Linked DNA regions of Homo sapiens: region 2 is linked to region 1. Evidence: fine-mapped expression QTL. Tissue or cell type: whole blood. Region 1 holds a variant in brackets; the other region holds the start of a gene. All regions are shown on one strand. Distances are between the middles of the regions.

What was found. PIP is the estimated chance that this variant, and not a neighbour inherited with it, causes the effect.
Region 2: it holds the start of C2CD3, and the variant in region 1 is fine-mapped to the expression of C2CD3 in whole blood (INTERVAL, PIP 0.95).

The regions. Positions count from the first base shown.
Region 1 is chr11:74,106,790-74,109,554 of GRCh38, forward strand. C2CD3 (C2 domain containing 3 centriole elongation regulator) reads right to left here. Exons shown (of 33, transcript NM_001286577.2): 12 at 2,245-2,363. Among named protein-coding and RNA genes, the nearest start is that of C2CD3, 63 kb to the right of the region's middle. The variant C/CA (reference allele first, on the strand shown) is at 1,361.
Region 2 is chr11:74,169,640-74,172,404 of GRCh38, forward strand. C2CD3 (C2 domain containing 3 centriole elongation regulator) reads right to left here and starts at 1,363. Exons shown (of 33, transcript NM_001286577.2): 1 at 1,099-1,363. The coding sequence starts at 1,153. It overlaps PPME1 (protein phosphatase methylesterase 1), which reads left to right and starts at 1,650. Exons shown (of 14, transcript NM_016147.3): 1 at 1,650-1,883. The coding sequence starts at 1,783. RefSeq lists enhancers at 598-1,521, 1,295-1,744, 1,522-2,444.

The DNA.
Region 1 (2,765 bases):
ATAAAAAATAAAATTTAGATGTCACAAATTTTTGCTATTAAAACTAGGGAAATTGTAAAATTTAATATATCTAATGCTATCAAGGCTATGGAGAAACAAGAGGCTGTCATATGCGTAAAGCTGGAAATATAAACTGGCAATATGCTTTTGGATGGCAAATTTGGTAACAGATATTAAAAGCTTTAAATATTTATGCTCTTTGGCCCAGTAATTCCATTTCTGGGAATTTGTACTAAAGAAATAATAAATAGGCTGGGCGCGGTGGCCCATGCCTGTAATCCCAGCACTTTGGGAGGCTGAGGCAGGCAGATCACCTCAGGTCAGGAGTTCAAGACCAGCCTGGCCAACATGGTGAAACCCCCGTCTCTACTAAAAATACAAAAAAATTAGCTGGGCATGGTGGCGGGTGCCTGTAATCCCAGCTACTCAGGAGGCTGAGGCAGGAGAATCGCTCGAACCCAGGAGGCTGAGGTTGCAGTAAGCTGAGACCATGCCATTGCACTCCAGCCTGGGCAACAAGAATGAAACTGTGTCACACACACACACACACACACACACACACAGAAATAAGAAACAATGCATAAAAAGCTTATACACAAATATGTATATGTTAAAAGTAGTTAACAATGAGATATACCTAGTTGTCCAATAATCAGGAATTATTAAGCTAATTATATAGCACATCCATATGATGGCATAACATGTAGCCATTAAAATGACATTTACTAAAAGTTTCTAATAATATTAACTGTTATAATGTTTGATAAAAGGGTATTAACTCATATATATCATAAACCTTCAAATACAAAATTATGTGAAAAACATTAAATAGATATTTTTGAAGAAAAATGAATAAAAACCCTCAAGATGCTAAATGATAAAAAGGAAGAATAAAACCTACATACAAAATTATACAACATACTGTATTCATTGGAAAAAGACAATGCAGATAGTCATAAATGTTAACAATAGTTATTTCTTGGTGACAGAATTACAGGCAATTTTTGCCTTTTAAAAATTATTTTTCAAGTTTTCTACAAAAATACGTAAAACTCTTTTATAATTAGAAAAAAAATGCCGGCCGGGCATGGTGGCTCACGCCTGTAATCCCAGCACTTTGGGAGGCCGAGGTGGGCAGATCACAAGGTCAGGAGATCGAGACCATCCTGGCTAACATGGTGAAACCCCGTCTCTACTCAAAATACAAAAAAATTAGCCAGGTGTGGTGGTGGGAGCCTGTAATCCCAGCTACTCGGGAGGCTGAGGCAGGAGAATGGCGTGAACCCGGGAGGCAGAGCTTGCAGTGAGCTGAGATCGCGCCACTACACTCCAGCCTGGGCGACAAAGCGAGACTCTGTGT[C/CA]AAAAAAAAAAAAAAAAGAAAAGAAAAAAAATGCCATTAATTAGGTATAGGAAAATGATTCAATGTAAATACATTGAAATGTTAATAGAGTTTATCTTGAGGTTATGAAATGATGTGCCTTTCCCACCATTCCTATTTTGCTATAATTTTTCAAAAAGGACCTGTATTGTATATGTCTTCTGAAAAAAATAAAAGAAAACAAGATGTTCTTCATGCTATCCATACCAAATAAGAGGTCAAAAGATTATAAAGACTACTCTTTTATTGAAGGAAGTAAAAACTGCTTGTTATAGTTTATTGATTTACATTATGCCAGCTGCAAGCAATTTTATAAACTTGGAATTAGTTGATCAAAACTGCTACTCACAACTATATTATTTTGGGCTTGGATACCTTATGTATTCTGCCTGCAAACAGGAAGTAGAACCTCAAATTAAGGCTAATAGCCTGTATCAATATAGCTACCTTTCTTTAGAAGGGAACAGCACAATAAAGAGGTTAAGAACTTGAGATCTAAAGACAGCAGATTTGGGATGGTGTCCTGGCTCTTTCATTAGATTGAGTGATCTTAGACATGTTAACTAAATCTCAGTTTCTTCATCTGTAAAACAAATATAATAATGTACCTAATTCACAGAGTTGTGGTGATTAAAATTGATAGTGTGCTCGTGTAGAGCCTTTAGTATTATATCTGGCCCATGACAAACAGCAGAGATTAGTAGTAGTAATAATAATAATGATAATAATAATAATAATAATAATAACAATGGATTATTAGTACTGCCTGCACCTGAAGATTCCTAGTTTAGGTAAGAATATAATTTTAGGTATCCTCCAAATCCCTAGTGTGAAGGTAAGGCAAAGGCCAAAATCACTCAAAGTACCTTTTTCTGTGGAGTTTTCTTTACATAAATTTGGAAAGTGAGGTTGGAATTCCACCAGTGCTCTATCATTGGGCCACCAAACTGTACTGGAAACACAAATCGCTGCTGGAACTTCACCTCTGTAAGGAGAACCAGACACACAGACATGTCACACCACCCAACTGAAGTCATCATCAATTCATGCCTTGATACCACCTGCCTCCCTTTCAAATTTAATTAAAATCTCCTGCAGAAATCGAGTCAGTGTGCTTTCACAGAAAGTGCTAGGGTTGTAGGATTGAATGAGCAGGGACAAAGAGAAAACTCTGGAGATAGTACACAGAAGACAGGCAGTGCTATGTTGCTCCGCTTTGCCATGAGAAATGAATGTCAATCATATGAGTACTGGATGTGTAAGGAGACATATCTATATACTTCACTGGGTTTTAGGTAATAGCACTGTTTTTAAAAGACTAGTTTGTAGGTAGTATACTAAAAGAAGGGGGCTGGTTGGAGGTGGAACAATGAGGGATAAATAGAAG
Region 2 (2,765 bases), 63 kb after region 1:
CATATGGAAATGGTATAGCAAAAAGTGTATTCTGTTCTATGCTATGTTATATTATTTCTACTTTGACTTTCCGATTATCAACCAAACATGCTTAACTGTTTTGACACAGGGAGCACTAGTATGCTTCAGTCTCAGATCCTCCTATCTTTCCTGGCAGGAAAGTCAGTATCTCAAAACTGCCTTAGTAATCTTTAAACAGCTTGGATAAGAGTAATTCCCAGATTGTAGCTTCAGTCCTCAACCCAATGGCCTAATGTCCTATCACTGTTCCCAATACTTCTTTTCTCGCTAAACTGCCTACAATGCAAAAAGGCAGGGTCACCCACTGTCCTTTTTCCCTTCGAGGCAGTCTTGTAGAGATTCAATGTCAAGTTTCCTGATCTGCCCTGGGTTCCTAGGTTGACTGTTCTCACTGCAGCTAACATCCCCTACTCGGTGAGCTTGTGTCTCCTTGAGCTGCTAACCTGATGAGGACTCTCTGCTGCACACTCTTTCATGATCTCAGGTCCTTCAGGAGATCGTCATGCCCTTACCCCCACTCCAATCCTATCACACCTGTCATTCCCCACTCTTCCCGGCTCTATACTCTACAATTATTTTTCCCAACTCCTGCTCATAGTCAGCCCTTCATACTTCATTCATTCAACTAACATTTACCGAGTCCTGCTTTGTACTAATCCTTGGTCATTCAGTAATGTATAAAACGTGATTCTTGCCCACAATCACACAACAAATGATATAATCCCTTTGCCAATTTATGTTTCTTCCTGTCCCTGTGGACCTCGAAAGCTACACACACACATACATTTCACTTCGTTATCAAAACCAATCCCATCATTGTTTGTTCTTCTCCTCTACAGTCATCCTACCGGTAACCTTCATCTCATTAATCGCCTGTCTGTGGCCCCTACCCCAGCCCCTAATTCCTTTCTATTCTCTGGAGGGCCAATTGCCCTTCCTTTTAACCTTCTGGTTCCCTGGCTACTTCCTTCTTACGTCCCTTTTCTTGTTTATCCAGCGGGGGTGCGGGTCTCCCTAAAATTCCTTACACCCTGCTCTCCTATTACGCTTTCCTCAATCTTTGATCGCTCAGGTTACCTCTTTTTTTGCGCCCACGGCTGCCCCCAGACCCTTGGCCTTTTCGTTGTTTCATGATGAGCCCGAGCTCTTCTTCACCAGCTCAACTCCGTCTCCAGCACCTAAGCAGTATCCTCCCGCCATCCCTCCCCACGGCGCCTGCGTTCCCCGGCAACCGGCGCCGCTGGGCAGCCTGGGAGGCAGGAAAAAGCGACTCTTCCTCTAACAGTCTCCGGAAAACGGTGCGAAGAGAAGGCGCCAAGACGCCTTCCCTCCAATACACTACAATACCCAGGACGCTTTGCTACAATACCTCTCCGGGGTTGGCTGGGGGGCGCCTCCAGCTGCGCAAGCGCATAGGGATGCGCCCTTTGTGGACTCCATTGCGCAGGGTGCATTGCCCTGAAGAGCGCTCCTCCTTCCGGTGAAAGTCGTCGGGTTCCCAGCCGGGAGTCTGCGGAGTTCTCATACTCTGTTACCCAGCTTCCTTTGTATGAGTGCTGTTGCGCACTTCCGGTGGAAGCGCTGAAGCGAGTGGGTGGAGTTTACGGAGCCGGTGGGCGGTAGGCGGTGCTACGGGTAGCTGGGTGCTGTCCAAAGGCGACAGGGCGTCGTTAGGGGAGCGAGTCGTGACCGGTTGGGCCACACTCAACGTGGGACGAAGCTTCGCCTACTGTTTGACTACGTGCGTGCAGCCTCCCCTCGATGTCGGCCCTCGAAAAGAGCATGCACCTCGGCCGCCTTCCCTCTCGCCCACCTCTACCCGGCAGCGGGGGCAGTCAGAGCGGAGCCAAGATGCGAATGGGGTACGTGACCCATACCCCTTCTCCCTATGGGCCAGGCCCCAGCCGTTGGAGAATGGTATCTCTGGGCGTTCATAGAGGCACGGGAAAGGAGTCTACTGATAGGAGAAAATGTTGGCGGCCTGGAGATATTTAGATGGAGTAGAAGGCAGATTGGGGTACTAGGGGAGGCGCCAAGTCAATAGAAATTGGAGGAAAAATAACGTTGTTGAAGGGAGAGGGGAATGAGGCAAAGGTTGGGGAAGCTGAGAGACTAACATAAGGGATCTGAGAATCACTTCCACAATAAAGGAGGCTTAGAAAAGGGAGTAGAACGGTGACAAAGGTGGAGGAGAATCGGCCAGGGAAGGTGGAGGGAAGTGGGGAATGACTGAGAGAAAAGTTGAGGGGAATTGGGCCAACAACTAAGGAAAGGTTTGGGAGGAGTAGATATTATCAGAGTTCTAATATCTGCACTGTGAGAACTAGATACTAGAAAAGCTGAGGGGGGTAGAAAACACTCGAGACAGGGCTGGAGAAGGAAAGAGGAGAACTAGGAAGCAGACGATTCTAGAGAATTCCCAGAGGTGTAAAGACAGATTCAGCGAATGAGAGGTGAGATTAGGTCTCTTAAGGGAGAATGAGAAAGTTTAGGGAGTAGGCCTAAGGTAAGGTGGAGAACATAGCCACGAAGATTGTTAAGGGTAGTAGGAATGTGCTGAGAAGCTGGACAGGATAAGGGAGAGAGAAGAAGGAGAGGACTGAAGAATTTACAGAGTGAGAAGCTGGACAGGATAAGGGAGAGAGAAGAAGGAGAGAACTGAAGAATTTACAGAGTGACCATAGGCTCTAAAGATTGAGAGATGACTATAAATACGGTTTGGTGAATGGAAGTGCTGCAGTTGT